Linked DNA regions of Homo sapiens. The protein of the gene in region 1 interacts with the protein of each later gene in a pairwise test. Each region holds a gene or a part of one and is shown on either strand. Other genes may lie near its edges.

Region 1 (11,068 bases):
AAGTGGGGAGTTGGAGGACACCTTTCCATCCCAGCCCTAACCAAAGAGCCGGCAATGCTAAGTAAACTTTGCAGTGGAAACCAATCACTCACCACCAGCCCTTGACTACCACACCTGAGCCTGGTCTCACTGGCCTGGCTCACTGGCTCCAAAAACTGCTTCATGAGGCCCTTCAGTTCCTGTGACATGTGACCCGTTCTCAGCCACTGTTCCTATCATCTTGGTTCCCCAGGTATCCCTGGCCCAGTACGCATGCCTTCAGCATTCTGCCCAACTTACTCTTTAGAAAGGTTACAATCTCCTCAACTGGCCGGAAGCCACACAAGCCCTGGAAGGGGGTGAGGGCAATGGCCATCTCTGGCTTGTGGTTGGCATCGGGGTAGTGCTGCGGAGCCTGGAGGTGCAGCTTCTCTGCCAGCTCCTGTGGGGTGGCCAGGGGAAGAGGAGGATGGTGAGGGTACAGCCATTACCTAGCAGGTACACCAGTGCCACCTAGCCCCTGCTGTCCACCCTCCCCAGTTGCAGGATGGCAGTGACTACCTACCTCTGGCAAGGAGCCCAGTCAAAGCATGTTGCAGAAACTTGGGGCTCAGCCAACCCAGGGCAGGGGCAAATCAGGGGCAACCCCGGGGCAAATCAGGGAAAAGCTGGGGCAGACTTTAAGAGGCTTGGCCTGTGAATCAGGAAACCCAAATACCAGACCAAGCTCTGACACTAACAAGCTGTGTGGCTTTGGTAAATCCCTCCCTTCTCTGGGTCTTACTTTGTGTATCTAGAAATAAGGAGTTTTGGCTGGGCATGGTGGCTCACGCCTGTAATCCCAGCACTTTGGGAGGCTGAGGCGAGCGGATTACGAGGGCAGGAGTTCAAGACCAGCCTGGCCAACATGGTGAAACCCCATCTCTACTAAAAATACAAAAATTAGCTGGGTGTGGTGGCGCGTGCCTGTAGTCCCAGCTATTTGCGAGGCTGAAGCAGAAGAATTGCTTGAATTGGGAGGAGGAGGTTGCAGTGAGCCGAGATCGCGCCACTGCACTCCAGCCTGGGCGACAGAGCAAGACTCAAGTCTCAGAAAAAAAAAAAAAGGAGTTTTGATCCACAGTTGCTTAGGATGGGACTCCGGCTTGTGTAGGGAGACTCCATGGGGGTGGGGCTGAGGGTACCTGCCCTGCCTTGCAAGTTGAACTCTTCCTGAAAGCAGATGAGTAAATGGCAGATATGAATAGACATGGGTTGGATGAGGGAAGACCAGGAACAAGCCCCTTGGAATGAGCTTAGAGAAACTCCCCTGGCACAGGCCGGTGAGCTGTTTGCTTAGACTTAGTTGCTGCATGTGTCACTACCATCTGGCTTTGCAGAGCTAAATTGGGAGTTGTCAGCCTGGATTTGGCCTTGGGCAGGAGCCTGGCATGGGTGGGGTAAAAGTGGCAGTAAAAGTCACGGGAGGGCCTTAGCATAAGCCCTTCTGTACCCTGACCTCTGCACCGCACTCTGTCCTTTACCTTGTTAGGGTGTGCCTGGATGGACAGGGGTGTTTCAACTGAGAGCACTTTGAAGAGGAAGGGCAGGTTGCCATTAAAGGTGTCCTTGACCTTTGAGCCCAAGCTGTCCTGGTTCTCAGCAATCCACTGGCTTAGGGTCTTCTGTGAGATGCGGTTGTCAAGGATCTTGGCATCCCCTCGGGGGTGAGTCCCCATCCACAACTGGAAAGACAGGAAACTTGGGAGGGGAAGGGGGAAGAAACCTGCCACCCTGAGTTGGCCTGTCCCAATCCGTTATGCTGTGCTCCCCACAGGGCAACTGAGTCCTGGGAAAGGCCTCCCAGGTCTGGATACAAATGTTCATGCCATCATGGACATACAGGGAGGCAGTAGACCCAGGCCCTTGTCCAGACTCGGCCTCTAGCCATCTATGAAGACTTGGACTAGTTATTTCCCTTCTTTAGATGTATCTTCTTTGTCTGTCCAAAGAGGAGAATGACATCTGCACTGTCAAGGTAGCAGAAAAACTATGACTCTTAAATGATTCTTTCAGGGGTTAACATACATCTTCCAGTTTCAGAAGCAGAGGCGAAAGCCTTCCTATGCTTTGGCTTTTTCTCCACTAAATAGGCAGGAGAAATATTTTAGGTTAATAAAAATGCAAAAAAATAGTCAAAGTAAAAAAACTTAATTGTCAAAGAGGGCTGAATTAAAATTCACTAAGTGCTAAGAGTGGTTGGGGGAAGGAGAGTGCTGGAAATCCCAGCCTATTATGACAAAACCTCTCTTCTTTTTGATAACACTATCTAGTCCATTAGCCTGAAGAGCCAAGTGGGTCTCCTCCCTCCTTGCTGCCTCACCCTTCCCAGCTGATTCTTATGACTTGCCTCAGGCCCTTTCTCCTGACCTGCGGGTAAAGTGGGCTGAAATACAGCCCGGGGCTCACCTCTGCATAAGGCTTGTCCTCTGCGATCTGGGCCAGTGGATCACTGCTGGCCAACAGCCGCGCCACTTCGCTGTTGGAACCCATCTTCCCCCAGGCATACTGCTGCACCGCACAGGAAAGTGGGAATACTAGGGGCACAGACAGGGTCAGCTGCCACTCCACTCCTCAGGCCCCACCCTAGTGTCCCGGGAAACCAGGCAAGAGCTGGGGGTGCTCACTGGGGACAGAGTCAAATAAGGGTTTTGTAGGCTGTTGGATGAGACCCCCCTCCGCTGCAGGCCTCGATGTTCCCAACTGTCAGATGGGCAGCAGTAAGGACCTTGTGCTGATCTGAGGCAGGGTGGCGGGGAGGGAGCAGAAGGTACCTATCCCACGGCACGACGTCTAGAAGGGCCCCCTCCCCTCGGAGGTCAATCCCCATCGCAGGTGGCCACACCTCTGCCCGGCACCCACCCATCTTTCCGCGGAATGCCAGGAGCGGACTCAACCTGGCCGATAATGCCGGGAGTCGTCCCCAGGACGCGCTCCACGAACACACTCGCCGACACCCCAGCCAATGGCTCACCTCGCGGAGCGGCCATGCTCGCCCCCTGCACCAGGATTAAGCACGTATGCCTTTCCCGGCAGCCCCCGCGGCCCTCTGCGCCCAGAGCTTCACGGGAAATGTAGTTCCCTGAGCGTTCCGCCAGGCCCCGGGGCACCCGTGCCCAGAGGCTTACGGCCGCGATCTTCGGTCTCACTATTCATTCATTCTTTCCATCGCCGGGCACAGATGTACTGAAAACCTGCTAAGTACCACGGACTGTTCTAAGGGCTGGAGGATACATCAGAGAGCAAGATAGCCTTCCCTCTGCCTTTGTAGAGCGCTTACATTCTGGTGAAGGCAAGACAGACAAGTATTGTAAGCAAATCATGTAGTATGTTGAAAGGTCAAGGCCACAAAAAGTAAGGGGGCAGGTGGCAGTGGGAGGCAGTTTGCAGAATATAAAAGGCTGTCTGGGCAAGCCTCTTGAGGAGGTGAGGTTTGAGTCCAGACTTGGCGGTGAGGAAGGCAGGAGTGTTCTGCGGGGAGGAAACAGCCACAGCGGAAGCCAGAGCAAGGCGGGAATGTGGGACTGTGCCGGGCGTGTTGGGGAGGGAACTGCTAGCAAGGAGGCCACTGTGGCTGGAGCAGAGTGAGTAAGACAGGGGCAGTGAGGAGGTCAGAGAAGAGAGGAGGGGGGCAGAGCTTTGCAGGCTATTGCTATTGTGAAGACTTTGGGTTTTACTTCGAGTCTCAGCAATTACAGATTTGAGCAAAGAATTGCTGTGATGTGAGTAGGGACATACTAGTGATGATGATGGTAAATGTCACATGCAAGGCCCTTCACTGCTCTGAGCTTTGTAGAATGGGGTGAATAATGCCAGCCTGACATGCTTGTTGGAGGGTCAGATGGGATGACGTGAGACACCTATAAGGCAGTCAGCTCCCTGTGCTCCTCTGATCCTTCCCGTCCCAGGTGCTGTAGAAAGTCAGAACCCCAACTTCTACTCCAGGCTGAGCTGCTTACAAGTTGCACACACAGAAGTCAGGGGAATTACGAAGAGCTGTGCATAGGGAAGGATGGCCTTGGGCCTTGGCTCTGCAGTAATCTTGGCTATATCCTGTGGTGAAAGGCTTTGACATCCAGACCTTCTCAGTCAACAGCCTCCTAGGAGGAGGACAGTCAGTGGCTCAGGCCTGTAATCCTAGCACCTTAGGAGGCAGAGGCAGAAGGATTGCTTGAGGCTAGGAGCACAACAGTCAAAGCTCCGGGGAACCTGGAATGAGGAGTTACAGTCCTGACTCTACCCTCATCACCCCTGCAATACCCTCATTCCCACAGCCTCTACCATATGTGCCCAGGGGAAAGAGCGGGTGCCGTTTTCCCTGTAATCCTCTGCCCAGGTGTGGGTATCTATCTCACCTCCCCTGGGGTCCTCTGGCTCAAATAAATCAGCTTGCATTTTAAAGGAAGCTTTACCATGCACTAAGGAATAATAAAATGGATAATACAAGACTCATGACAGCCCCCCGCCTGGCCAGCCGCCCCGTCCGGGAGGGAGGTGGGGGGGTCAGCCCCCAGCCCGGCCAGCCGCCCCGTCCGGGAGGTGAGGGGCGCCTCTGCCCGGCCGCCCCTACTGGGAAGTGAGGAGCCCCTCTGCCCAGCCAGCTGCCCCGTCCGGGAGGGAGGTAGGGGGGTCAGCCCCCCGCCCGGCCAGCCACCCCGTCCGGGAGGTGAGGGGCGCCTCTGCCCGGCCGCCCCTACTGGGAAGTGAGGAGCCCCTCTGCCCGGCCACCACCCCGTCTGGGAGGTGTACCCAACAGCTCATTGAGAACGGGCCATGATGACAATGGCAGTTCTGTGGAATAGAAAGGGGGGAAAGGTGGGGGAAAGATTGAGAAATCGGATGGTTGCCGTGTCTGTGTAGAAAGAGGTAGACATGGGAGACTTTTCATTTTGTTCTGTACTAAGAAAAATTCTTCTGCCTTGGGATCCTGTTGATCGGTGACCTTACCCCCAACCCTGTGCTCTCTGAAACATGTGCTGTGTCCACTCAGGGTTAATGGATTAAGGGCGGTGCAAGATGTGCTTTGTTAAACAGACGCTTGAAGGCAGCATGCTCGTTAAGAGTCATCACCACTCCCTAATCTCAAGTACCCAGGGACACAAACACTGCGGAAGGCCGCAGGGTCCTCTGCCTAGGAAGACCAGAGACCTTTGTTCACTTGTTTATCTGCTGACCTTCCCTCCACTGTTGTCCTGTGACCCTGCCAAATCCCCCTCTGCGAGAAACACCCAAGAATGATCAATAAAAAAATAAAAAATAAATAAAAAAAAAAAAGACTCATGAAACAACGTACTCAATACCTCGTGCTTTGGAATACCACTCCTTTCCCTCATCTCCACTACCCAAGTGATATGATTTGGCTCTGTGTCCCCACCCAAATCTCATCTTGAATTGTAATCCCCACATGTTGAGGGAGGGACCTGGTGGGAGGTGATTGGATCATGGGGGTGGTTTCCCCCATGCTGTTCTCATGATAGTGAGTGAGTTCTCCCAAGAGCTGATGGTTTTAAAGTGTGGCACTTTCTCGCTCTCTCTCCTACTGCCATCTAAGATGTGCCTCGCTTCCCCTTTGCCTTCTGTCATGATTATAAGCTCCTGAGGCCTCCCCAGCCATGTAGAACTGTGAGTCAATTAAACCTCCTTTCTTTTTTTTTATTTTTTCTTTTTGAGTATTGAGTCTTGCTCCGTTGCCCAGGCTGGAGTGCAGTGGCATGATCTCAGCTCACTGCAAGCTCTGTTTCCCAGGTTCAAGTGATTCTCCTGCCTCAGCCACCCAAGTAGCTGGGTGCACACCACCATGCCCGGCTAATTTTTGTATTTTTAGTAGAGGCGAGGTTTCACCATTTTGCCCAGGCTGGTCTCGAACTCCTGACCTCAGGTGATCCACCTGCCTTGACTTCCCAAAGTGCTGAGATTACAGGCATGAGCCACCGCGTCAGGCCAAACCTCCTTTTTTTTTTTTTTTTGAGATGGAGTCTCACTCTGTCACCCAGAGTAGAGTGCAGTGGCACGATCTTGGCTCACTGCAACCTCCGCCTCCCGGGTTCAAGCGATTCTCCTGTCTCAGCCTCCCAAATAGCTGGGACTACAGGCACGTGCCACCATGCCCGGCTAATTTTTGTATTTTTAGTAGAGACGGGGTTTCACCATGTTGGCCAGGCTGGTCTCAAAATCCTGACTGCAGGTGATCCACCCACCTCAGCCTCCCAAAGTGCTGGGTTACAGGCATGAGCCACCATGCCTGGCCCAAACCTCCTTTCTTTATAAATTACCCAATTCAGGTAGTATCTTTATAGCAGCATGAAAACGGACTAATACACCAAGCAATAGGAACCTTCTCAGATAAGAACGAGGGACTAATGAGGCTCAAGGAGTTCTTGGAGCACTCCCCACTACCACTACCACAGAAAACAGAGTCAGGGTTATTTGCTCATAGTATCCCTGCAAAGTGAAGGAAGAACTTAGATTGTTGGGAGATACAGACCACCCCCCAACCCCATGCCACCCTCCCCCAATACAGAAAAACTTATCTGTAAGAGAAACTAGGGTGTTTGGAGAACCTAGAACCTTCTACTTCTTCCCTCTTGCTGGTCTATCTTGAGAAAAGAGATTTTATCTGAGGAATGTGCATCCTTTTATATTATCAGGCCCAGAGAGACATTGATATGGAGGACAGACCCTTCTTAGGTGCCCCTCTGGCCCGCAAGTATGGAGATAAAGGGAAAATTTTGAGTCCCTTCAAGGGAGATTTCAGGAACTAGCTAGCCCTGCACCCAGCAATTAGGGAAGTAAATGAATAACCCACCAAGGAAGAAGGTAATAGTAACTTAAGCAGCCACCCAAGTAAGCCAGAGTCACAAGATGTTTAGTTCTCTATAAAAACTAAAGATAGGGGCTGGGCGTGGTGGCTCATGCCTGTAATCCCAGCACTTTGGGAGGCCAAGGCGGGCAGATCATGAGATAGAGTTCAGGAGATCGAGACCATCCTGGTTAACACGATGAAACCCCGTCTCTACTAAAAATACAAAAAATTAGCCGGGCGTGGTGGCAGGCGCCTGTAGTCCCAGCTACTCGGGAGGCTGAGGCAGGAGAATGGCAGTGAGTGGAGATCGTGCCACTGCACCCCAGCCTGGGCGACAGAGCAAGGCTCCGTCTCAAAATAAAAAAAAAAACAAAAAAACAAACAACAACTAAAGACAGAGTGCAGTGGCTCAGGCCTGTAATCCTAGCAGTTTAGGAGGCAGAGGTAGAAGGATGGCTTGAGGCCAGGAGTTCAAGACCAACCTGGCCAACATAGCAAGATCTCATTACTATTTAAAAAAAAATGAAAATAATATCTTGGCCAGGTGCAGTGGCTCACACGTGTAATTCCAACACGTTGGGAGGCCAAGGCGGAGGATAACTTGTGTCCAGGAATTCAAGACCAGCCTGGGCAACATAGCAAGACCCTGTCTCTAAACATACTTTAAAAATTAGCTGAGGGTGGTAGCACATGCCGGTAGTCCCAGCTACTCTGGAGGCTGAGGTGGGAGGATTGCTTGAGCCTGGAAAGTCGAGGCTGCAGTGAACTGTGATTGTACCACTGCACTCCAGCCTGGGTGACAGAGTGAGACTGCATCTCTAAAAACAAATAACACCTTGACATGTCTTCTGGTTTTGTTTTTTTTTTCAGAGATGGGTTCTCTCTGTGTCATCCAGGCCTACTGCAGCCTCGAACTCCTGGGCTCAAGCTATCCTTTCATCTCAACCTCCTGAGTAGCTAGGACTATAAGCACATGCCACCACACCTGACTAATTTTTAAATTTTTTGTAAAGACGGGAGGTTCTTGCTATGTTGCCTAGGCTGGTCTTGAACTCCTGGGCTCAAGCTGTTCTCCTGCCTCAGTCTCCCAAAGTGCTGGGATTCCAGACTCCTACCAGATGGAAAATGCCCACTGCTGTCACATTGACCTCAGATAAGGGGGAACTGAAGACTGAACTCTGACCACCATCCTTTTTTCCAAATTATTCCTGAGGGATGTGGAGAGAGTCACACCCACGGGCCAAACCTTAGCATTCCTTTCTGCTGACACCAAGTTTTTAGACAAAGCCTTGCTTCCTTAGCCAATTACAAATCAAAGAATCTCTGAATTCACATGAGCCCCTGCTTCAAGATATCCCACTTTTTTGGGGCAAACCAATGTGTAACCTCTATGTATCGATTTACAATTTTGCTTTCCTGAAATGTGCCCCTTCTTTTAAAAACCCTTGCTTGTAAGCCATTGTGGAGTTCAGGTCTTAAGCATTAGCTGCCTGATTCTCCTTGCTTGGCACCTGCAATAAATTATCTCACTTTCTTTTGCTGCAAGTCCTGGTGTCGCTGTTTGGCATTTTTTTTTTGTTTGTTTGTTTGTTTTTACTTTGAGACAGAGTCTTGCTCTGTTGCCCAGGCTGGAGTGCAGTGGCACAGTTACAGCTCACTGCAGCCTCTACTTCCAAGACTCAAGTGATCCTCCCACCTCAGCCTCTTGAGTAGCTGAGATTATAGGCACATGCCATCACGCCTGCTTATTTTTTAAGAGATTGGGTCTCACTATGTGGCCAGGCTGGTCTTGAACTCCTGGCCTCAAGTGATCCTCCTGTCTCAGCCACCCAAAGTGCTGGGAGTATAGGCATGAACCACTGTGCCTGGCCAGTGTTTGGCTTTTTCTGCACACTAGGAAAGCAGATCCAAGGTCAATTCAGTAACAACATTAAAATGAGACAGCAACCACATTCTACTTCCTTCCTTTTGAGCTATTTATTTATCTCTTGAAACTGCTTGCTATTGCCACAACTAGGTATAAATTAACCTAATAATACCACAATGGACACTGTAACCCATACCCTACAGCTTAACAATGTATGGCCAATCACTAATCAGTGCTAATTCAGTAAACCAATGAGAATTCCTGACAAAAGACTGTATCAGCCCACTCCTTGTCCCTGCATTTTACCTTTAAAAACATACTTGTGGCTGGGCACTGTGGCTCATGCCTGTAATCCCAGCACTTTGGGAGGCCAAGGCAGGAGGATTACGAGGTCAGGAGTGTGAGACTAGCCTGGCCAACATGGTGAAACCCTGTCTCTACTAAAAATACAAAAAAATTAGCTGGGCGTGGTGGTGCATGCCTGGAGTCCCAGCTACTCAGGAAGCTGAGGCAGGAGAATCGCTTGAACCCGGGAGGCAGAGGTTTCAGTGAGCTGAGATTGCACCACTGCACTCCAGCCTGGGCGACAGAGCAAGACTCCATCTCGGAAAAACAAACAAACAAACAGAAAAAAAAAACTTGAAACAAAGGCCTAACAGAGCTCATATCCAAGGTTACTTGGGTATGAGTCTTATGGACAGCTGTCTCACTGTGAATCAAGTAACTTTAATTTTGTGACTCAGCCTCTTCTTTTTAGGTTAACAATCTCTAGTAGAACTGATCACACTCTATTATCTAGTGACAATACACTTTCCTCTCTCTCTTCCCTTCTAGACTATATGTCTAATTCAGCTTCACATTTCTGCCAGTGCCCAGCTGAGGGTTCAAGCTATAATAGCAGCATTTTTTTTTGAGACAGTCTCCCAGAATGGAGTGCAGTGGCAAGGTCACATCTCACTGCAACCTCCATCTCCTGAGCTCAAGTGATCTTCCCACCTTAGCCTCCTCAGTAGCTGGCACTGCAGGCACACACCACCACACTTGGCTAATTTTTGTATTTTTTATAGAGACGGGGTTTTGCCATGTAGCCCAGCTGGTCTCAAATTCCTGAGCCCAAGGAGTCCACTGGCCTCAGCCTCCCAAAGTGCTGGGATTACAGGTGTAAGCCACCGCACCTGGCTGCAGCTAACTTTTATTGTTATGAGAGTGGCAGGAGGCAGACAAATCCTAGGCAGACAGGGACAGGTCCCCGGTGAAAACCAACCTTCAAACCAAAGACAGTTTAAAGCCTGAAAGCCAAGCTACAAGTCCTGGGTAAATCCACGGACTGGAGTGAGAACCTCTCTTCCACTTTGGTGCACTTTCCTCTGATTGATCCCCACCCCTCACCTATTTTACATATACCTACCCTTCCCTAATTGGTTTCTTACACTGTTGTGCCCACCTTTGAGTGATGCCTTTGTTTTAGCCTTTTTTGCATACTCACAAACCAATCAGCATGTACTCTGCCATTCTGAGCCTATAAAAGCCGCAGACACAGCCACACCGAGTAAGAGACCACCCAACTTCAGGTGGGGGAAGCCCTCACATCCTCCTCTCCACTGAGATCTCTTTTGTCACTCAGTAAAGCTCTTTGTCCCCCTCACCCTTCAATCGTCAACATAACCTCATTCTTCTTGGACACGGGACAAGAACTTAGGACTACCGAATGTAGGTAAAAAGAGGCTGTAACACTGGTCCTCTGCCTTCCACTGGCTGAGGTCAGGTGCCTCATGTGATGGGAAGGAGTGGCAGGGCCAAGCCAGTACTGGAGCCATAGGCTGGAATGGGGCAATGGGACTGACAGAGCTGTTAACACATCAGCCGCTGTCCATCAGGCTGCAGACAGTGGGACCAAAAGAGCTATTAGCATGCTGTAATACCCACTCTGGGGCTTTGGGGTCATAGGCATCCCTGTTCATATACCACCACTTTCCCCTCAGTGCAACATGCCTGGTCCAGCCTCAAGCCCTGCATGGAACCCACTCCTGTGTCTGTGCTTGGTGTGGTGGTCAGACTCCACACTTGCTCACACCTCCTCCCTCCAGGGGCTGAGTGCAGGGATCTGCATTGGAGTGGAAGCCAGGCGTGGCCCAGTGACCTGAGTAGACGGGGCATCTCCTGCAGCAAGCCCAGGCCTGAGCAAGGCCCGGGCAGGGGTGTCGCCAGCTGAAGACCTCCGGCTGACAAAGGGGCTGAGAAAAATCCCGCCTCAGTTATACACTGGGTAAGGCCAGAGTTCAGTCCTCAGTTCCCCCTTATCTGGGGTCTATGTGACAGCAGTGGGTGTTTTCCATCTGCTAGGGGTCTGGGTTTCTGGAAGACAACTCAAGGGCATATGT
Region 2 (11,148 bases), on another chromosome or scaffold:
GAACCTGTCTCAAAAAAATTAAAAAAATTAAACAGGTCTGAACCGTTTAATTCGAGAAAGGGGGCATTCTCCCATATCACTCAACTGACCCACACACAGAATTCTCTGGCTCTCTGACTTATTCTCACTCCTTTTTGGTCAACCACAGAATTTATTTGACAACAAGTTTGATGACATCTTTGGCAGTTCATTCAGCAGTGATCCCTTCAATTTCAACAGTCAAAATGGTGTGAACAAGGATGAGAAGTGAGTCCAAGCTGGGTTCAAGCAGATGGTTCAGGAGCTAAGTTAAGCCATGGTCTGCCTCAAAACACTAACCAAAGAGGAATTCTTAATGATACTGGGGCTTCTTAGATACAGAACATCTTGAAGGGTTGGGGGCAATGGCTTATGCCTGTAATCCCAACATGTGGGGAGGATGAGGTAGGAGGATTTTTTAAGGCCAGGAGTTTAAGACCAAGCTTGGGCAACATAGCAAGATCCCATCTTTATTAAATAAAAGTAAAAAAATTAGCTGGGCAGGTGGTACACACCTGTAGTCCCAGTAACTCAGGAGGCTGAAGTGGGAAGATCATTTGAGCCTGGGATATCAAGGCTGCAGTGAGCTATGATCGTGCCACTACACTTCAGCCTGGGCGACAAAGCCAGACTGTCTCTAAAACAAAACCGAAAACACACACAAAAAAGGAATGTCTTGACCCTCAAATATTGGCCCCTTTAATCTCAGAAGAAAATCAATAACCATGGATTTATGAGTATTAGATTAGTATCTGGTAACATTTAGAGTATAATTTATGGCATTTCAAAGAATTGTCCCCAAATTAATACCAGCTTTTAATTTCCTCCCCTGAGCTCACAATTAAAAACAGAGGGATAGAAGCACTATGAAAGCAAACTCATTCCCCTTCTCTTCCCAGGGACCACTTAATTGAGCGACTATACAGAGAGATCAGTGGATTGAAGGCACAGCTAGAAAACATGAAGACTGAGGTATAACTTGGATCTGCTCTGCCTTTGCGCTTCACCAAAACACGGTAGATTTGAATGTTAAATTTGCATCACACTAGCCAGGCACAGTGGCTCACACCTGTAATCCTAGCACTTTGGGAGGCCAAGGCAGGAGGATTACCTGAGGTCGGGAGTTCGAGACCAGCCTGGGCAACAGGGTGAAACCCCCGTCTTCAATAAAAATGCAATAATTAGCCGGGTGTGTTGGCAGGCACCTGTAATCCCAGCTACTCGGGAAGCTGAGGCATGAGAATTGCTTGAACTTGGGAGGCAGAGGTTGCAGTGAACTGAGATCGTGTCACTGCACTCCAGCCTGGGCGATAGAACAAGACTCTGTCTCAAAAAAAAAAAAAAAAATTGCATCACCTAGACAGTTTTTGGACCACATCCTTAGGGTAGGTTAATTAGTAGAAACAAGCCAGGCGTGGTGGTGTGCACCTGTGATCCCAGCTACTCAGGAGGCTGAGGTAGGAGGATCACTCAAGCCCAGGAGTTTTGAATCCAGCCTGGGCAACATAGCGAGACCTGTGTCTCTAAAACCAAATAAAAACTGGTAGAAATGCTAAATCCAAAAGAACCAGGTCTTCCCGTGTTCTCTGTCATAATGCATTTCCATTTTACATGCCATGAGGACAGCATTTAGGCCAGGCACAGTATCCATGTGATTGATACCCAGAGATGACCTTGGTCCCCACGAGGCTGAGAAGCTGTGGAGAACAAGACCAGACCTTCTCACATGGCGATAAGGAGAGATTGGTTTGCCGGGCACAGTGGCTCACGCCTGTAACCCCAGCACTTTGGAAGGCTCAGGCAGAAGGATCACTTGAGCCCAGCAGTTCAAGACTAGCTTGGGCAACATAGCAAGACCCCATCTCTACAAAAAACTTTTTAAAAATTAGCTGGGCATGGTGGTGCATACCTGTAATGCCAGCTACTTGGGAGGCTGAAGCTAGAGGATCTCTTGAGCCTAGGAGGTTGAGGCTGCAGTGAGCCATAATCACCTCACTGCACTCCAGTCTAGGTGATAGTGATACCCTGTCCCTCCCCTCCCCCAACCGCCAAAAAAAAAAGAGAAGAGACAGCTGTGAGCAATGTTGGTGCTATATTAACAACCGCCCCTCACAGTGGCTGGTCAGGTGACTTCACCCACAGGGACAGCCACTGCTACCCCCAGCCACTCTAAAGAGGACCACAATTCCCCGGCCATCATCCCCTGTTATTGTTGTTGATTGAGGGGCTCCTAATGACCAGATGGTCCAACCCTCCTGGGACGTGGAGAGTTGACTTAGGGGAATCAGGTATTTACTTGGAAGCATGGTAGGACCCGCTTCTCCGGCCCATGCCCGTGACCCGTGGCAGTGGGCGGTTGGCCTCATGACCGGAGTCCCCCCACAGAGCCAGCGGGTTGTGCTGCAGCTGAAGGGCCACGTCAGCGAGCTGGAAGCAGATCTGGCCGAGCAGCAGCACCTGCGGCAGCAGGCGGCCGACGACTGTGAATTCCTGCGGGCAGAACTGGACGAGCTCAGGAGGCAGCGGGAGGACACCGAGAAGGCTCAGCGGAGCCTGTCTGAGATAGAAAGTGAGCGGTGGGTGGGGGCGGGGGCGGGCCCCGGGGGCAGGCGCGGGCAGCAGAGCCCAGCTGGACTCAGGATGCGGCACAGAGGCTGGGTGGGGGAGACCCAGACTGTCTTTCTAGAAACAGCTAGGAATGCCAGCTCTTAGCCTCAGTCCAGAGGGCGGGTTTGAGTCCTGCAGGCACAAAGCTGTGTGCGAGGCACCGCTGAGCACAGAGATGGGAAATACAGAAGACAGCACTGAAGTGCTTGCCCTGGGCAGTGGATACTAAGGGAGAAGGAGAGAGGATTGAGGTCCTAACAAAGAAATTGACATAAAAGCTGAGGGCACAGTGGCACATGCCTGTAATCCTAGCACTCTGGGAGGCCAGGATGGAAGGACTGCTTGAGGCCAGGAGTTCAAGACCAACCCGGGCAACATAGCAAGACCCCATCTCTAGAAAAAATAAAAAAGACTAGCCGGGCATGGTGGCACGTGCCTGTAGTCCCAGCTACTCTTGAGGCTGAGACAGGAGGATCGCTTGAGCCCAGGAATTCAAGGCTGCAGTGAGCTGATTGCACCACTGCACTCCGGCCTCTGCAACAGAGAGCCTTGTCTCTAAAAAATTTCAAATAAATTTGTTAAAAAGCTGAAAGCCCCCATAGAATAAATGCCATGTATGTAAGTGCTGAAGAGGCATGAATCCCTGGCTTGATTATTTATTTGTTTTATTTTTTTGAGGTGGAGTCTCACTCTGTCGCCCAGGCTGGAATGCAGTGGTGTGATCTGGGCTCACTGCAACCTCTACCTCCCAGGTTTAAGGGATTGTCCTGCCTCAGCCTCCCGAGTAGCTGGGATTACAGGCACACACCACCATGTCCAGCTGATTTTTGTATTTATAGTAGAGATGGGGTTTCACCATGTTGGTCAGGCTGGTCTTGAACTCCTGACCTCAGGTGATCCACCCACCTTGGCCTCCCAAAGTGCTGGGATTATAGGCATGAGCCACCTCGCTTGGCCCCTGGCTTGATTTTTAACTAGTTGAATTCTTTTTAAAGATGACTTCCTGGAGAAGTTTCTGTAAGTAGGACTTTCAAGGGAGAAAAGCATATATGCATTCCTAAATCAAAGGAAGATCTTTGGCCGGGCACAGTGGCTCATGCCTATAATCCCACTGAGATGGGAGGATCACCTGAGCCCAGGAGTTTGAAACCAGCCTGGAAAACATAGTGAGACCCTGTCTCTACAAAAATTAGCCGGGTGTGGTGGCGTGTGCCCATGAACCCAGCTACTCAGGAGACTGGGGTGGGAGGATGACTTGAGCCCAAGGAGGTCAAGGCTGCAGTGAACAGTGATTGTGCCACTGCACCCCAGCCTGGGTGACAGAGCAAGACTGTCTCAAAACAAAACAAGGAGGACCTTCTAGGGACCCTGGCTCATTGCAAGGAAGGCAAGGGTCCCTGCTAGGTTAGACTCCTCACCTTGGTCCTTTACAATACAGGGAAAGCTCAAGCCAATGAACAGCGATATAGCAAGCTAAAGGAGAAGTACAGCGAGCTGGTTCAGAACCACGCTGACCTGCTGCGGAAGGTAAGACCCTCAGCCCCTGTCACCATCCTGCAGGCCCTGCACCTCTAGGGAGAGAGCGGCTCAGGCCTGTGGCTTCCCCGGGGCCAGCAACCCCTACATTGATCTCTAAGGCATTGCCGTCATCTCGGGAACCACACCTTTTCAGGCTTCCTTGCCTCTGTGTCTTGGGCTGTGTCCTGGGTGCCAATCCCATGTAGGTCACCCACCTTCTTTATTATTTTGTAAATATTTGAGCATCAAGCATCTGAAGGTGATGGCTCTGTTCCGGCTGTGGGTAGGAAAGTGATTCCTGTGTCTGACTCTAGGGCACGCACAGCCTGAGTATGATTGTCCTAGAAGGAGGATGTCCTCTAAGCCTGGGATCTCCTGGTTCAAGACACTGTTCTTCTTTTGCAGAATGCAGAGGTGACCAAACAGGTGTCCATGGCCAGACAAGCCCAGGTAGATTTGGAACGAGAGAAAAAAGAGCTGGAGGATTCGTTGGAGCGCATCAGTGACCAGGGCCAGCGGAAGGTGAGTGGGACGAGGAGCACTCGGGAAATGAGGGAGGGGGCTGTTGAGTTGGTGGCGGGGGCTTTGTGGCCTTCTGCTCCATGGGCAGTTCTGTGGGTCGGTTGGCATCACACAGCAGGGAGCACACCATGGTGGCCACACAGAACAGCAAAACACCGTCACCAGTGCATACACGAAGTAATGGAAGGACCCAAGTTGCCTGGGGTTAATCAACAAAGGCTTTCCAAGGATGAGGCTGGTGGAGAGTTTGAGGAAAGGAAAACACATGGGTGGCAGAGAGAGAGGGATGAGCGTTTTTTTTTGTTTGTTTGTTTTGTTTGTTTGTTTTTTGAGACGGCAGTAATCCCAGGACTTTGGGAGGCTGAGGGGGGTGTGGATCACCAAGTCAGGAGTTCGAGACCAGCCTGGCCAATATGGTGAAACCCCATCTCTACTAAAAATACAAAAGTTAGCCAGGTGTGATGGCGTGTGCCCGTAGTCCCAGCTGCTTGGGAGGCTGAGGCACAAGAATCTCTTGAACCTTGGAGGTGGAGGTTGCAGTGAGCTGAGACTGCACCACTGCACTCCAGCCTGGGCAACAACAGCGAGACTCCGTCTCAAAAATAAATAAATAAATAAATAAATAAATAAATAATAAAAAATCCTTCCTTGACATTCCACATTTTCAGTACACTCTGGGGTCTTGCCTCCTCCTCCCACACCCTGCACTTTTTTGGGGGGGTGTAACTTACATACAGTAGAGTTTACAGATCTCTTGTTGATCGCTTGGGACGTTTTTACATTTTTATATTCTTTGTCACTGTCACCCAGATCAGAGTCCCTCTGTTTTTCTTCTCTTTCAGACTCAAGAACAGCTGGAAGTTCTAGAGAGCTTGAAGCAGGAACTTGCCACAAGCCAACGGGAGCTTCAGGTTCTGCAAGGCAGCCTGGAAACTTCTGCCCAGGTAAATACCTCCTTTTTTTTTTTGGAGATAGAGTCTTCTTCTGTCACTCAGGTTGGAATGCAGTGGTGCGATCGCAGCTCACTGCAGCCTCCACCTCCCTGGGCTCAGGTGATCCTCCCCACTTAGCCCCCCGAGTAACTGGGACTACAGGCACACACCCCTACACCTGGCTAGTTTTTGTATTTTCTTTGGTAGAGACGGGGTTTCACTATGTTGCCCAGGCTGGTCTCGAACTCCAGGGCTCAAGTGATCCTCCCACCTCAGCCTCCTAAAGTGCTGGGATTACAGACATGAGCCTTCATGCCCGGCCTCCTTTCTTGCCCCACCCCTGGCTTTGGCGTTGCTGTCATCCACCATCCTTGGCCTGGCCAAGTCAGCCCCCACTGCAATCAGTGTGTCCCCGGGAGGGAATCAGAGTGGCAGGTTAAAGAGCCATCACCTTCCCAGTCCTTGCAACCCGGTGGTGGGTTGGACCTCTGGGAAGTAGGGACTGTTTAACTCAACCAGCGTCTCCCTCTTTCCTTGTGGTCACCTTTGCAGTCAGAAGCAAACTGGGCAGCCGAGTTCGCCGAGCTAGAGAAGGAGCGGGACAGCCTGGTGAGTGGCGCAGCTCATAGGGAGGAGGAATTATCTGCTCTTCGGAAAGAACTGCAGGACACTCAGCTCAAACTGGCCAGCACAGAGGCAAGTCACGGACATGGACACGAGCGAGCACCTGTGAATTCCCACCGAGGGCCTCTGCGCATGCACGGAGGCTGGGAGGACCCCGGGGCTGCTGAGAAGGGGTTTGGGGCCTTGGCCTGATTGTGCAGACATTCTGTAGGTGTAATGCCAGCAGGCCCTGCATTGCCTGCAGAGTCCATGAGGGAAAGCAAACTGCTGTCTTTTTTGTATGAGAAGAGAAGTTTGGCATCTCCTCCCAGCCATGAGAAGCGGGCGCAGTGATCCATCCCCACAGCCTCTGTGGGCAGCCGCACATCGTGGGCAGCCGCACATCCTGTGCACACAGTTAAAGCGCCTTTCTCTGTCTCAGGCTTACTGGCTTGGACCTCATTGGCCATGACTTGAGCTAAGATGCTAAGAGCCCCAGCCAGGTCATCCTGCTCAGGTTCATTATGGAGTCTAGGGCAGACTCTCACCTCCCTGGACCATTTTTAGGAATCTATGTGCCAGCTTGCCAAAGACCAACGAAAAATGCTTCTGGTGGGGTCCAGGAAGGCTGCGGAGCAGGTGATACAAGACGCCCTGAACCAGCTTGAAGAACCTCCTCTCATCAGCTGCGCTGGGTCTGCAGGTACACTTGCAATTGCCCAGCTGGCAGGGGCCAGGTCCTTACAGCCTGAGACTCTGTTGATGTTGAATCTCATGTGAGACTTAGCTCAGGGGCTCTCAGCCCAGCAGCATGTCAGCATTACCTTAGGGGCGCCCAGGCCCCATCCTAGATCAGTTACATGTGGAAACTCTGTGCATTAGTGCCTATACACTAGTATTTTAGTATTTTCTTCCCCCCCCCCGCCCCCCCGCTTTTTGAGATAGGGTCTTACTCTGTTGCTCAGGCTAGAGTGCAGTGCCGTGGCTCACTGCAACCTCCGCTTCCTGGGCTCACACAATCCTCCCCACTCATTCTCCCAAGTAGCTGGGACTACAGGCACGCAACACCACGCCCAGCTAATTTTTGGTTTCGGTTTGTTGCTCAGACTGGTCTTGAAGACCTGGGCTCAGGCTATCCACCCACCTTGGCCTCCCAAAGTGCTGGGATTACAGGCATGAGCCACCATGCCTGGCCTTGGCTAATTTTTTAATTTTTGGTAGAGACGAGGTCTCACTCTATTGCCCAGGATGGTCCCAAACTTCTGAACTCCCACCTTGGCCTCTCAAAGTGCTGGAATTACAGGCATGAGACACCACGCCAGGCCCAGCAGTAGTATTTTCTAAAGCCCCCAGGTGTGATAGCTACTGCTTTAGACAGTGGGTCACACTGATAAAACACCCACCAGGAGCAGACAATTCTGTTTCTCTAAGGAAAAAACTATGGTCTGAATCAAGAGGTGATTACTCATGAACTTCACGTCTAGGCAGGAAGCTTACCCACTAGGTAAGCTCCTCCATTCAGTGCTTAATTAACGAGGATGAAGCCAGCTATGAGAACTTGCTCTGACCTTGCCCTGTGTTCCCTCTCACAGATCACCTCCTCTCCACGGTCACATCCATTTCCAGCTGCATCGAGCAACTGGAGAAAAGCTGGAGCCAGTATCTGGCCTGCCCAGAAGGTAAGAATGGCCAAGGACAGTCTCTGTCGGCTAGTGATGGCCAGACAGGGTTCAGAAGCACCTGAATGCGGGGATAGTGACAGGTCCCTCTGCATCAAGAAAGGCATGTAGGCAACTCATACAAGAAAGGCATGTAGGCAACTCATAAAACGGGAGGAGAGGGTATGAAAGTGTCACCATCAACCAGACCTGAGAAACTTCTCTTTCCAATCCTGGCAGACATCAGTGGACTTCTCCATTCCATAACCCTGCTGGCCCACTTGACCAGCGACGCCATTGCTCATGGTGCCACCACCTGCCTCAGAGCCCCACCTGAGCCTGCCGACTGTGAGTACCGGGGCATGAGGGGCTGTTCATGGACCAGGGGAGCAGGGGGCCTTTAAAAGTCTCTGTTGGGCCGGGCGCAGTGGCTCATGCCTGTAACTCCAGCACTTTGGGAGGCTGAGGCGGGCAGATCACTTGAGGTCGGGAGTTCAAGAACAGCCTGGCCAACATGGCAAAACCCCATCTCTACTAAAGATACAAAAACGATGGGCCAGATGCAATGGTTCACGCCTGTAATCGCCGTAACACTTTGGGAGGACGAGGTGGGCAGATCACCTGAGGTCAGGAGTTCGAGACCAGCCTGGCCAACATGGCGAAACCCCGTCTCTACTAAAAATACAAAAATTAGCCGGGCATGGTGGCGCACCCGTAATCCCAGCTACTTGGGAGGCCGAGGCAGGAGAATCGCTTGAACTCAGGAGGCGGAGTTTGCAGTGAGCCGAGATGGCGCCACTGCACTCCAGCCTGGGCAACAAGAGCGAGACTCCATCTCAAAAAAAAAGTGTCTATTGCCTTGTATCTCCAGCACTGACCGAGGCCTGTAAGCAGTATGGCAGGGAAACCCTCGCCTACCTGGCCTCCCTGGAGGAAGAGGGAAGCCTTGAGAATGCCGACAGCACAGCCATGAGGAACTGCCTGAGCAAGATCAAGGCCATCGGCGAGGTACTTGGAGTAGTATCATTGAGGAGCATTGTTATTCTTCTGGGTGTGCGTGCTGGTGAATGGCCAGGGAATCGGTGATGTTCTGAGCTAGTTCTTTCTGCACTTAGAACTTGATTCTAGAAAGAGATTGTTAAAATTGGAAAATCTGGCCGGGTGCAGTGATTTATGCGTGTAATCCCAGCACTTTGGGAGGCCGAGTCAGGAGGATCACTTGAGGCTAGACGGGATGGCTCACGCCTGTAATCCCAGCACTTTGGGAGGCTGAGGTGGGCAGATCACTTGAGGTCAAGAGCTAGAGACCAGCCTGGCCAACAGGGTGAAACCCTGTCTCTACTAAAAATACAAAAATCAACCCAGCATAGTGGTGCATGCCTATAATCCCAGGTACTGGGAGGTGGAGTCAAGAGAATTGCTTGAACCCAGGAGGTGGAGGTTGCAGTGCACCGAGATCATGCCATTGCACTCCAGCCTGGGCATAAGAGTGAGATCTATCTCGAAAAAAAAAAGGATCACTTGATCCCAGAAGTTTGAGACAGGCCTAGGCAACAAAATGAGACCCTGTCTCTTTAAAAATTAAAAAAAAAAAAATTTAAAAAGGAAAAACCTCCTGAAGGACTTTCCAGCTATATTTAATTCACTGGCTGTTAGCTGAGAATCTACTATGTTGTCATCATTACACTAGGCAATATCAAAGAAGTATAGGCAGCTCCCCTGTCTCTGAGGATTTTTATCTAGGTGGGCAGGTAATACCCAAAATGGAAATAACACTGTGTTCATTCATTTACTAAAGATGTAGTGCCGAGCATGGTGGCTCACACCTGTAATCCCTGCACTTTGGGAGGCCGAGGCAGGAGGATCACTTGAGGCCAGGAGTTCAATATCAGCCTAGGCAACATAGTGAGACCCTGTCTCTACAAAATAAAATTTTTTTTTTAATTAGACAGGTGTGATGTCACGCACCTGTAGTCCCAGCTACTCGGGAGGCTGAGGCAGGAGGATCGCTTGAGCCCAGGATTTGGAGGCCACAGTGAGCTATGATTGTGCCACTGCACTCCAGCCTAGGCAACAGAGTGAGACCCTGCCTCTGCTATAAATAAATATGTCCTGTATACCAGAAATTGGGTTAAGTATATATAGGGACAGAGAAGACATGGACTCTATGGAAAAGAAAAATAAGAAAACCATTTCTATGCAGTACAGTTTTTTTTCATTTTTTCCCCAGTGTTATGAATTGGAATATATTGGTTAAGATACAAGGATAGGGCCAGGCACGGTGGCTCACGCCTGTAATCCCAACATTTTGGGAGGCCGAGGCAGGTGGATCACCTGAGGTCAGGAGTTCTAGACCAGCCTGGCCAACATGGCAAAACCCCATCTCTACTAAAAGTACAAAAAATTAGCCAGGCGTGATGGTAGGCGCCTGTAATCCCAGCTACTTAGGAGGCTGAGGCAGGAGAATCACTTGAACCTGGGAGGCTGAGGTTGCAGTGAGCTAAGATCGTGCCTTTGCACTCCAACCTGGGCAACAGGAGCGAAACTCCACTCAAAAAATAAATAAAAAATAAAAGCCATGAGGATAGACTGTCTAATTGGAGTTCCAGAAGAAGATAATAAAAAGACCACATCCAGCCAAGGTGGGTGGATCAATTGAGGCCAGGAATTTGAGACCAGCCTGGGCAACTTAGTGGCGCCCTGTCTCTACAACAAATTTAAAAATTGGCCGGGTGTGATGGTGAGCACTTTTGGTCCCAGCTACTCAGGAGGCTGAGGCAGGAGGATCACCTAAGCCTGGGAGCTCAAGACTGCAGTGAACCGTGTACTCTGCAGTGAATTGCAGAGTGTACTCTGCAGAGTGGTTCACCTGCAGTGAACCACTGTACTCCAGCCTGGGTGAGAGAGTAAGACCCTGTCTCTAAAAAGAAAAAATAAAAAGATCAGGGCCAGGTGTGGTGGCTCACGCCTGTAATCCCAGCACTTTGGGAGGCTGAGGTGGGTGGATCACTTGAGGCCAGGAGTTTGAGACCAGCCTGGCCAATATAGTGAAACTCCATCTCTATTAAAAATACAAAATTAGCCAGTTGTGGTGGCTAATTTTGTAATCCCAGCACATACCTGTAATCCCAGCTACTTGAGAGGCTGAGGCAGGATAATCCTTTGAGCCTGGGAGGCGGAGGCTGCAGTGAGCCGAGATTGCACCACTGCACTCCAGCCTGGGCGACAGAGTGAGACACTGCCTCAAAAAAAAAAAAAAAAAAAAAAAAAATTATCATCTACATCTTTGC

The links.
Region 2: the proteins of MPI (region 1) and HIP1 interact in binary tests that used the Homo sapiens proteins (3 or more experiments, as listed by UniProt).

The regions. Positions count from the first base shown.
Region 1 is NC_000015.10:74,882,014-74,893,081, reverse strand, and holds the start of MPI (mannose-6-phosphate isomerase), read right to left. Parts: upstream 3,041-11,068; 5' UTR 3,009-3,040; coding exon 2,993-3,008; exon of another isoform or gene 2,885-2,992; coding exon of another isoform or gene 2,881-2,884; intron 2,645-2,880; exon of another isoform or gene 2,556-2,644; coding exon 2,428-2,555; intron 1,704-2,427; coding exon 1,503-1,703; intron 422-1,502; coding exon 280-421; intron 1-279. UniProt on the Homo sapiens protein: Isomerase that catalyzes the interconversion of fructose-6-P and mannose-6-P and has a critical role in the supply of D-mannose derivatives required for many eukaryotic glycosylation reactions.
Region 2 is NC_000007.14:75,551,171-75,562,318, reverse strand, and holds part of HIP1 (huntingtin-interacting protein 1), read left to right. Parts: intron 1-148; coding exon 149-246; intron 247-917; coding exon 918-990; intron 991-2,403; coding exon 2,404-2,587; intron 2,588-4,063; coding exon 4,064-4,152; intron 4,153-4,548; coding exon 4,549-4,665; intron 4,666-5,507; coding exon 5,508-5,609; intron 5,610-6,149; coding exon 6,150-6,293; intron 6,294-6,767; coding exon 6,768-6,903; intron 6,904-7,792; coding exon 7,793-7,879; intron 7,880-8,098; coding exon 8,099-8,206; intron 8,207-8,729; coding exon 8,730-8,866; intron 8,867-11,148. UniProt on the Homo sapiens protein: Plays a role in clathrin-mediated endocytosis and trafficking. Involved in regulating AMPA receptor trafficking in the central nervous system in an NMDA-dependent manner. Regulates presynaptic nerve terminal activity.